3 linked regions of the Homo sapiens genome follow. The protein of the gene in region 1 purifies or fractionates together with the protein of each later gene. This does not show direct contact. Each region holds a gene or a part of one and is shown in the gene's direction. Other genes may lie near its edges. The genes, in order: POLQ, TCERG1 and RBM25.

The links.
Region 2: the proteins of POLQ (region 1) and TCERG1 purify together in Homo sapiens (affinity purification with mass spectrometry; one large-scale study listed by BioGRID and IntAct). This does not show direct contact.
Region 3: the proteins of POLQ (region 1) and RBM25 purify together in Homo sapiens (affinity purification with mass spectrometry; one large-scale study listed by BioGRID and IntAct). This does not show direct contact.

Annotation. Positions count from the first base shown.
Region 1 is NC_000003.12:121,543,748-121,547,498, reverse strand, and holds the start of POLQ (DNA polymerase theta), read left to right. Parts: upstream 1-1,510; 5' UTR 1,511-1,621; coding exon 1,622-1,784; intron 1,785-2,592; coding exon 2,593-2,772; intron 2,773-3,751. UniProt on the Homo sapiens protein: Low-fidelity DNA polymerase with a helicase activity that promotes microhomology-mediated end-joining (MMEJ), an alternative non-homologous end-joining (NHEJ) machinery required to repair double-strand breaks in DNA during mitosis.
Region 2 is NC_000005.10:146,457,226-146,460,876, forward strand, and holds part of TCERG1 (transcription elongation regulator 1), read left to right. Parts: coding exon 1-110; intron 111-1,658; coding exon 1,659-2,112; intron 2,113-3,651. UniProt on the Homo sapiens protein: Transcription factor that binds RNA polymerase II and inhibits the elongation of transcripts from target promoters. Regulates transcription elongation in a TATA box-dependent manner.
Region 3 is NC_000014.9:73,061,442-73,065,092, forward strand, and holds part of RBM25 (RNA-binding protein 25), read left to right. Parts: intron 1-3,530; exon of another isoform or gene 3,531-3,651. UniProt on the Homo sapiens protein: RNA-binding protein that acts as a regulator of alternative pre-mRNA splicing. Involved in apoptotic cell death through the regulation of the apoptotic factor BCL2L1 isoform expression.

The DNA of each region.
Region 1 (3,751 bases):
TGACTCCAGAGTTGCACTGTTAACCCTTAAGTTACACTGCATCTGAGAAAGTTCTTTCTTGGCTGCAATCTAGGGGTCTCTCTCTCTTTTTTTTTTTTTTCTTTTTTTGAGACGGAGTCTTTCTTTGTCGCACAGGTTGGAGTGCAGTGGTGCGATCTCGGCTCACTACAACCACCGCCTCCCAGGTTCAAGCAATTCTCCCGCCTCAGCCTCCAGAGTAGCTGGGATTACAGGCACCCGCCATCATACCCGGCTAATTTTTTGTATTTTTGTAGAGACGGGGTTTCACCATGTTGGCCAGGCTGGTCTAGAGCTCCTGACCTCAGGTGATGCACTCATCTCGGCCTCCCAAAGTGCTGGGATTACAGGCGTGAGCCACCACGGCCGGCGAGATCTCTTTTATTTCTTTAATAGTACTCTTCATTTCTGCCCAAGCATATGGCACACTTCATTAACTGACTTGTTTAATGTCTGCCTTATTCTCTAGACTCTTTCTCTTTGAGAGCAGGAACCATTTTATGCCATTTCACTGCCATTTACCCAGTGGCTAGCTTACAGTAGATACTCAGTAAATAGTTGTTGATTGCGTAAAAGGCCAAGAGAAAAATGTTTCATTCACGGAGTAATGTCGCCATCTCGTGGAACTTTAGAATATTGTCATTTAAATCAAAAAAATGTTTTCACGGAAGGAATTGATGGTTCGAATGCTATTTTCCAGATTGTATTCGAGTGTTTTTTTTTTTTTTAATTGGACTGGACCTTTTGAGATTTTTAGTGCTCTAGAACTGCACAGCCTCTTCAGGTCAGGCTTAGGGCCTACTAGTTTTGCTTGGTGAAATGAATTATGCAACTAGGTAATGAATGGTCACCGTTTTACGTTCAGAACTCGTTCGCTTCTACCTTTACAAAAGGGACAACACAGATGCATTACTAAGCTCTTGGCTCATAACGATCCCTGGGGTATATTCAGAGCCCCTTCCTCGCGGCGTTCATATAGTGTCTCAGGGGTCTGTCAGCCAGCAATCCCCAATTCCTCATTACATATTCCTCACAATGCATGCTGGCTAAAATGGAAATTGTGTTCAGAAATAGCCCTGCCCTACCATCATATACTAGGAGAAAGGAGGAAATTATGCTCTATTAGAAACCCTAGGCTATCTTGCATAATGCTTCTCAATCTGAAATAATTTTTTACAGAATACCAATACGTTAAGAAGAGCTACTTCCCTGATCTACCTATTATGGGCAGCCCATTTTATGAAGTTAGCATGGCCTTCCTATTCAAACCAGAAATGGACAAAAGGAGAAGGAAGGCTTTTAGGTCAGTATGGTTATAACTGTAGATTCTGTATTCTTCCTCTTTAATCTATCTCTCATATTAACCAACCAGGAGGTTGGAGGCCGGAAGTCTTAGACGCCAGCGAGAGCCGCTCCTTCCCCACGAGTCTATGGCTTTCGGGTTACTTAAGCCACGGAGAACTCTATGGTTCCGGGGCGGGCCGGGAGGTTTGAGTTTGAAGACTGGCGGGAAGATGTCCGCAGCTGTTGCCAGGCCAGGGTTCTCCCGAGAGGGAGGACGCTGGGACTGTGGCTTGCCCTGATCGGCCGAGAAGAGTTTGCCATGAATCTTCTGCGTCGGAGTGGGAAACGGCGGCGTTCAGAATCAGGCTCAGATTCGTTCTCGGGAAGCGGCGGTGACAGCAGTGCCAGCCCCCAGTTCCTCTCCGGGTCCGTGCTGAGCCCGCCGCCCGGCCTTGGTCGCTGCCTGAAGGCCGCAGCTGCAGGTGCTCCAGGAACCCGGGAGGCCGCGGGCAACGGGGGCAGCTCCGCCGGGCCATGGGTCGGGAGGTGTCCTCACCCCACGGGACTTGCTTCGTTGCATACCCCATTGGGCTTCTACTCCCCTTCTCTGTGACTGGGGCCTGGTGTGGCAGGTCACTTTCTGTTCAGACATACGCGTGTTTTCAGTGATCGCCTGGTATTAATGTTCACGTGGCTTCTGGATCTTTCGACCTTTAGAGAAACAACTTCCTAGTTAGCTTCATCCCATCATCTGTTGGGCGGCTCGTTCCTGGTAGTACCCAGTACTCCTTACAGACCCTTAAGACAGGATTGTTGGGCCTGGAGTACGGCACAGGCTGTTCGGCGTCCAGGGGAAGGCTGGAAGGGATTCGTAATGAGATTGGTTGGGTGTCCCGTGGATGTCGACCCAGTTTTTTAAAATCGTTAGTTGTGCAGTCGTCATGGAACTAAAACTTACTATAAATAGAAACTCACCTAACTTAGCTTTGTAATGCTTGCATATTGCCCTCCTCCCCCAACTACACCCGTAATTCCAACACTCTTTATCTACTGTGTATTGCACGCTTTTTTGTTCGTTTGAGGCTTTTAAGGAATTTTTATTATATGCAGTAAATAACAATTTATTACTTTTCTATACATGGTCAATTTCTCATAAGATTCTTGAAGTCAGGATGTGCTTTAAAGAGCTTCATTTCAACACATAGGAATTCCAACACACGGTGAAGGGCTAACTGTAAAACTCATATATTAGAAGTAAATTAAATTTTAATTTTTTCTTTTTCCTAAAAGGAGAATGCAAGCCTACAGTTCCTGACTACGAAAGAGACAAGCTACTATTGGCAAACTGGGGACTTCCTAAAGCAGTTCTGGAAAAATACCACAGTTTTGGTGTAAAAAAGATGTTTGAATGGCAGGCAGAGTGCCTTTTGCTTGGACAAGTCCTGGAAGGAAAGAATTTAGTTTATTCAGGTATCCAAATTTATGTAAACTAATTACTATTTTTAAGATATGAATGTAAAGAATACTCTATTGAGGTAGTTGTGGTTCGTTTAAAAGGTGAATGAGGCAGTGCTTTATAACTAGAGAAAATCGTACAATATGTGTGAAAAGTGGAGTTTTATTTATATTTAAATTACAAAAGTTTTATTGTTTGACTGGGGTGGAGGGAAGCAAGAAAAATGACAATTTAAAGAGTGGGCAATTCTGCCTGCCATTATTCTCAACAAACATATATCCCAGTGAGTGTGCAATGGGAGATGTAAATCTGCCCTTCCCCTGTTTGATCCTGGTTGCTTTTCAGGGTATGAGCATTATCATTACATGTTTGTTAATTTACCTTTTTTTTTTCTTGAGATAGAGTTTGTCTCCAGGCTGGAGTGCAGTGGCGCTATGTGGGCTTACTGCAACTTCCACCTCCCAGGTTCAAGTGATTCTCCTGCCTCAGCCTCCCAAGTAGCTGGAATTACAGGTGTGCGCCACCAGGCCCAGCTACTTTTTTGTATTTTTAGTAGAGATGGGATTTCACTGTGTTGGCCAGACTGGTCTTGAGCTTCTGACAAGTGATCTGCCTACCTTAGCCTCCCAAAGTGCTGGGATTATAGGTGTGAGTCACCGTGCCCAGCTATAGATTGACCTGTTTGTACAGGGTTGTATATACAAACAACAAGTAATATACTTTATATAAAATTTTTATGGGTTTTCTTTTTTTTTTTTGAGATGGAGTCTTGCTCTGTCGCCCAGACTGGAGTGCAATGGAGTTGTCTCGGCTCACGGCACCCTCTGCCTCCCGGGTTCAAGTGATTCACCTGCCTCAGCCTCCTGAGTACCTAGGATTACAGATGCCCGCTGCCATGCCTAGCTAATTTTTGTATTTTTAGTAGAGACGGGGTTTCACATCTTGGTCAGGCTGGTCTCGAACTCCTGACCTCAGGTGATCCACGCACCTCAG
Region 2 (3,651 bases), on another chromosome or scaffold:
CTCCGGGTATGATGTTTCCACCAGGAATGCCTCCTGTGACTGCTCCTGGTACTCCAGCACTACCTCCTACGGAGGAGATATGGGTTGAAAATAAAACTCCAGATGGGAAGGTAAATAATAAAATATATTTAAGTTGTCATTTGTTGACAGAGGAGTAAAACTTAAAGAGTTCTGGCAGATTGAGGTCAGTGATACTGTCATTTAAGAATGAGCCCTGGGTGAGCAGGGAATGGGGTAAGACTTCAGGAGAAGCTGACTGGATTTAGTTTTTGTGCAGCAGATATAAGGTTGCCTGGAGTGCTAACACACATTTACCTGTGATTCTGGAAGCTTCTGGTCACATTGGTACCATCTGCCTAGCACATACCAAATTCCAGGCTCCTAGAAGGAAAGCAGGTGTTCAGCGTAGCTGGTTTAGGCACATCGAGCCATTCTTATCAGTAAGGGAATGTCAACCCTCCTGAAATCCAAGTTCTTGGACTCCAGATAAGGGTCAGCAGGGCTTTCTACAGATAGCTGTCTCAGGTCTGTTATGTTGAATTTCTGCATAAAACATAACATGGGTTTTCCTTTGTGCTCATTATAGAAAATTGGGCTGTGGGGTGGAATTACCTATTTTTGTTGTTTTGTTTTTGTTTTTTGAGATGGAAGTTTCACCCTGTCGCCCAGGCTAGAGAGCAGTAGTGCAATGTTGGTTCACTGCAACCTCTGCCTCCTGGATTCAAGCAATTCTCCTGCCTCAGCCTCCTGAGTAGCTGGAGTTACAGGCACCTGCCATCATGCTCGGCTAATTTTTGTATTTTTAATAGAGACAGGGTTTCACCATGTTGGCCAGGCTGGTCTCGAACTCTTGACCTCAGGTAATCCCACCCGCCTTGGCCTCCCATAGTGCTGGGATTACAGGCGTGAGCCACTGTGCCTGGCCCTAAGTTATTTTATTTTATTTTATTTTTTATTTTTTTATTTTTGAGATGGAGTCTCGTGCTGTCACCCAGCCTGGAGTGCAGTGGTGCGATCTTTGGTTCACTGCAACCTCCGCCTCCCGGGTTCAAGTGATTCTCCTTCCTCAGCCTCCCAAGTAGCTGGGATTACAGGCGCCTGCCATCACGTCTAGCTAAATTTTTGTATTTTTAGTAGAGACAGGGTTTTACCATGTTGGCCAGGTTGGTCTCAAACTCCTGACCTCAGGTGATCTGCTCACTTCAGCCTCCCAAAGTGCTGGGATTACAGGTGTGAGCCACCGCGCCCAGCTATTTTTTATTTTTGAGATGGAGTCTCCCTCTGTCACCCAGGCTGGAGTGCAGTGGTATGATCTCGGCGCACTGCAGCCTCCACTTCCTGGGTTCAAGTGATTGTTTTGCCTCAGCCTCCCGAGTAGCTGGGATTACAGATGCCGGCCACCACACCTGGCTAATTTTTTTATATTTTTAGTAGAGATGGGGTTTCACCATTTTGGCCAGGCTGGTTGGTCTTGAACTCCTGACTTTAAGTGATCCACCTGCCTCTGCCTCCCAAAGTGCTGGGATTACAGGAATGAGCCACCACGCCTGGCCCTACGTTATTTTTAAATAGCTTTAAAGATAAAATATGGTTCCATTCTTGTTTTTAATAATAACTGACAGATTTTATGATACCATTGATTTTTGCTTCCGCTGCAGGTTTATTATTATAATGCTCGGACACGTGAATCTGCATGGACCAAGCCAGATGGAGTTAAGGTTATTCAGCAATCAGAACTGACACCTATGCTTGCAGCCCAGGCACAGGTTCAGGCTCAGGCCCAGGCGCAGGCTCAGGCCCAGGCGCAGGCTCAGGCCCAGGCACAAGCTCAGGCCCAGGCTCAGGCTCAGGCCCAGGCCCAGGCCCAGGCCCAGGCCCAGGCCCAAGCCCAAGCCCAGGCCCAGGCTCAGGCTCAGGCACAAGCTCAGGCCCAGGCCCAGGCTCAGGTCCAGGCCCAGGTCCAGGCACAAGTGCAAGCACAAGCAGTTGGAGCTTCCACCCCTACGACCAGTAGCCCAGCACCTGCAGTATCCACTTCAACATCATCATCCACCCCTTCCTCTACCACTTCTACCACAACAACTGCTACTTCAGTTGCGCAGACAGTATCAAGTGAGTACCACTCAGCATGTGTTTTTATATAGGGGCTAGAGACATGAACAAGTAGGGGACTACATTTCATATTGATCCCAGTGTTTCTGGTATTATCCTTTAATACCAGAATTATTTAAAATACATTTTTGACACTAAAACTTTTGGGTTAGAGGAAAACAGGAATTTATATTAACAGGAGAAATTATTTGCCCAGTTGCAGTTTATGAAGCTAAATTGAGAAAGTGCAAAGTTAGCTGTTCCACTTGGCCAACAGTAATGCCGGGCATTGTGGGTTTGCAAAATAAGTGTAAGTCTTGGTCCCTACCTTACAGTTTCCAGTATTCCTAATCGAGGAGGCAAGAATAACACGTGTTAAACAATTAGATATTGGTGTGCAAAACTATACAGTGAGAAAGATGTAAGAATTTGAGAAGTGGATAAATGAGTGGGTGGACTACATGGGTATTTATCATGAAGGAAACGGAGTAGGGTTTAAGCAGGTTCACAGGTAAGGAAAGGATTTTCAGGTAGGAGAAGCAACATGAATAAAGGTCAGGAAAATGATAAATGTAGTTTATGGGTTTTTAGGAAACTTCTGAGGTGAGAGGGTGTTTTTTTTGAAGGGTCTTAAGAACTAGGCAAATAGGTGAGACAGGCACTGGGGGCCTGTATAAATGCAGTATTTTGGAGGATTTTTTTTGGTGTTGGTTTTTTGGGTGGTGATGAAATAAGGGAGGTTTATTAGGAGCTTCTCAGTAATCTCTTTTAGAATAGTTTCTAGACTGGGATGCGAGTAGGTGAATTGAGGAGTTGCCATAGAAGGGAGCAGTCAGAAAGGCAGGAGAATTTTCAGGTGTAAACTCACAGAGGCCCAAAGAGTAGATCTTTTCTGAAAAGGTGAGAGTCGATTAATAGCAGATTTCAGAGATTAAGAGAGGGACACAGCTATTAATTTGCTTAAAAGATTGTTATTAATGTGACAATATTGCTTTCTTTTTGGGGGGTTTCTTTCTTTTTTTCTTTTTTCTTTTTTTTTTTGTATCAATATATGGATGTTGCTCCTTACTCTGCAGGTTGAGACTAAGCCCGAAAGTACTTAAATAATGATTTTTTTATTTGATTATTTGTTATGGCACTTGTCTCAAGATACACAGCTGTCCCTACAGTGTGATTATAATTTGTATTATTTTACTACCAGGATAATTGATAAGAATAAAGAAAAAATGTGGGGTTTTTTTGTGATTACTTCAGGGACTTGGGAATTATTAGTGTGTAAGAAATACGTATAAGAGAGAAATTAATTCACATTGGCTTCAAATTTGAATTTATTTTATTGATAAAAAGCAACTGAAGCAGTCAAGTAAGGTACATATAATATGGGGATAGCCTTTAAAGATCCTCTTAATGGTTTTTAGACATTTTGTAGCGGGGGAATGTACTGAACAGGAAAATATGAATAGTGTTTTACAAATCTGTTTGCTTTTGTAGTGAAGGTGAATTTTGATATGAAAGTATAACAGTCATACTAGCTAGTCTGTTAAGGGTTGTTACCTTTTT
Region 3 (3,651 bases), on another chromosome or scaffold:
AATATACAAAGTTATGCATCCATTACCCCAAAAGGATTCCTTCTGTCTGTTTGCAAGTCACCCTGTTCCACCCCAGTTTCAGGCAAGCCCTCATTTTTCTGTATAGATAGTAGTAGATAGCGCTGCTTTTTTGTTTTATTTGGTTTTTGAGATGGGGTCTCTTTCACCCAGGTGGAGGGCAGTGCTGCGATCTTGGCTCACTGCAACTTCCGCATTTCAGGCTTAAGCAATCCTCCCACCCCAGCCTCCCAAGTAGCTGGGACCACAGGTGCACGCCACCATGCCTGGCTATTTTTTTGTATTTTTGGTAGAGATGGGGTTTCACCATGTTGCCCAGGCGGGTCTGGAACTCAGGCTCAAAGGATCCACCTGCCTCGTCCTCCCAAAGTGCTGGGATTACAGGTATGAGCCACTGTGCCCAGCCTTGTTTTTGTTTTTAAAAAGATGAATTCTTCCTGTGTTGCTCAGGCTGGAGTGCAGTGGCTATTCACAGGCGTAATCCCACTATTGATCAGTTTGGGAGTTTTGCCCTTCTCTGTTGGCAACCTGGTGGTTCTCTCTCATCCCAGGAGGTCACCATATTAATGCTGAATGGACTTAGCATGAACACCTGATCAGTAGCGTGCTGCAGCCCAGAACTCCAGGGCTCAAGTGATCCTCCTGCGTAGCTGTGACTATAGGCAGGCACAGGAGTGTTGCTCTTTAATCATTGAAAATGGTAAAACAACAAAAGTGGCAATGTCAGAAAAAGATCAACTCTTTTTTGGAGATTTCCAAACAATTGAGTATTTTCATACTTCTGAAAAGCTTTGCTGTAAAAGTAGTTTTTCTGTTAAGCATTTCCCATTCTTCTTTGGGCATAAAACACTTTTTTTTTTCTAGGAATAATTCCTGCAGACCTGACACATAATTGGAAGTAGATATTGAATGAATGAGTGAGTTGTATGTGAATATTTGCTCAGAGGAATCTCAGTTCATTATCATTTCAGAAATTTGGCACGTAGTGTACTGATGGAGCTAGTCTAAAATAATCTATCCTGGGAGAAATAATTTTGTTTCTATCTGGATAAGTCTACAATAGAGGAATGCTTATTAGCAGTGTTTTGCTGTATTTTGCATACTTGCAGTATTCTTAAGAGTGCAGAAAAAAATAGTTTGAAAGATTCAAAGAGAAAAAAGTGAAAAAAGAAAAGCTGAGTGCATGCATATGTTGAGTACTAGAGATATGTCTTCAGGGTTTCTTTTTGGACCAGATTTCTTGAGATAAAATTTGCATACAATAAAATGCATCTGTTTTAATTTCAATGAGTTTAGACAAATGCATATACTTGTGTGACCACCGCTACACTAGAGGTAGGGAACCCTTCTATCATAGGTTTCTGTTATTTTATTTAATTTTTGGGGGGCCTCACTCTGTCGCCCAGGCTTGAGTGCAGTGGTGTGAGCTCGGCTCATTGCAACCTCCACCTCCCGGGCTCAAGCGATTCTCCCATCTCAGCCTCCTGAGTATCTGGGACCACAGGTGCATGCTACCACACCTGGCTAATTTTTTGTATTTTTGGTAGAGATGGGGTTTCACCATGTCGCCCAGGCTGGTCTTGAACTCCTGAGCTCAAGTGATCTGCATGCCTTGGCCTCCCAAAACGCCGGGATTACAGGTATGAGCCACTGCACCTGGCCCAGGTTCCTGTTTTTATTATCGTGGGCTATAGAGTTTCTTTTTTTTGAGATGGAGTCTGGCTCTGTCGCCCAGGCTGGAGTGCAGTGGCACAATCTCTGCTCACTGCAAGCTCCGCCTCCCGGGTTCACGCCATTCTCCTGCCTCAGCCTCCCGAGTAGCTGGGACTACAGGCGCCTGCCACTATGCCCGGCTAAATTTTTGTATTTTTAGTAGAGACGAGATTTCACTGTGTTAGCCAGGATGGTCTCGATCTCCTGACTTCGTGATCCACCCACCTCGGCCTCCCAAAGTGCTGGGATTACAGGCTTGAGCCACCGCGCCCGGCCCGGAGTTTCATACTTAGCAGGAAAAGGTGCTTTGAACCTTCTAAAATGTGAGGTACTTTCAATATTTTAAAAAATGCTATGGAAATGATTTCAGTGCCATAAGATAACTCTGCATTTCTCTCTTTTAAATCCCACATATTATACAATCCCTCAGCAAATCCTATTGGCTGCCTTCAAAATATATCCAGGATCCAACAACTTGATAGCACTTTCACCACTACCACCTGTTCCAGGCCACCATCTCTCCAGGCTACCATCTCTTATATGGATTATTGTACCAGTCTCTTGCTTGTATCCTGTTCCCTTCCAGGCTTAACACAGTGGCCAGTGATACTGTTAAAATGTGACAAGTCAGAAACTCTTCAAATGATTTTCACCTCATTCAGAGTTAAAACTAAAATGTTTATTTACATTGTGTTACATAGCCCTACACTCTACTCATAATACTCAGTATTTATTTCTGATTTTCTTCATTTATTCTGCTCCAGTCATACTGTTGGCCTTGCTATTCCTCCCTCAAATACACCATTCCTGCTTCAGCCTCTTTGTATTTGTCTTTTCCTTTGCTTGGAAGTCTCTTTCCCCCAGATATGAATAGGGCTTCCTGCCTCTGCCTCTTTTAAATCTTTGTTCTAATCTTCACCTTCTTGGTGAGGCCTAATCGCTGTATTTAAAATAAACTACTCCATAGCTCTCTTCCCTAATTTATTTTTCTACAAAGTACATACCATCTTTCAATGTATTATAATTTATTTTGTTTATCATCTATAGGTAACAGATAAGCTTTGCTTATGATTATGAAAGTTAATTCTCAATCAGTTTCACATGGCAAAACACATAAACCTGTGTTGAAATAAGTAGTTGGTAATCTTTTAGGCTGCTTAAAGTGGACATTAGTATTTATCAAAGATGAGAAATGTTTTCTGATTTTCCATGAGAGACCAATCTTTTTTATTTTTGTTTTGAAATGGAGTCTCGCTCTGTCACCCAGGTTGGAGTGCAGTGGCGCGGTCCCAGCTCACTGCAACCTCTGCCTCCCAGGTTTAAGCAATTCTCCTGCCTCAGTCTCCCGAGTAGCTGGGACTACGGGCGCCTACCACCATTCCTGGCTAATTTTTGTATTTTTAATAGAGACGGGCTTTCACCATGTTGGCCAGTCTGGCCTCGAACTCCTGACCTTGTGATCCGCCCGCCTCAGCCTCCCAAAGTGCTGGGATTACAGATGTGAGCCACCGCGCCCAGGAGAGGCCAGTTATCTTAAAGGAATATCCATAAAAATTAGCTGTTAACTGGTATTTTTGCCTTCACCTTTGAAGTCCAGCCTATCAACAAGCAAGTTTTGGCAGCTCCAAATAAAGGGGAATATGTTATGGAAAAATTTGAAGTGAATGGAATGGGTATATTGGCATAAACGAAAATTAAATATATCTGGTTAACTCTGCAGAATGAATTACACATTTAAAAACCATAAAATATAACTTAAATACCAAGAATATAGAGTTTTACTTTTTTTTTTTTTTTAGACGGAGTCTTACTCTGTCGTTCAGGTTGGAGTGCAGTGGCGCGACCTCGGCTCACTGCAACATCTGCCTCCCAGGTTCAAGCAATTCTCCTGCCTCACCTTCCAGAGTAGCTGGGATTACA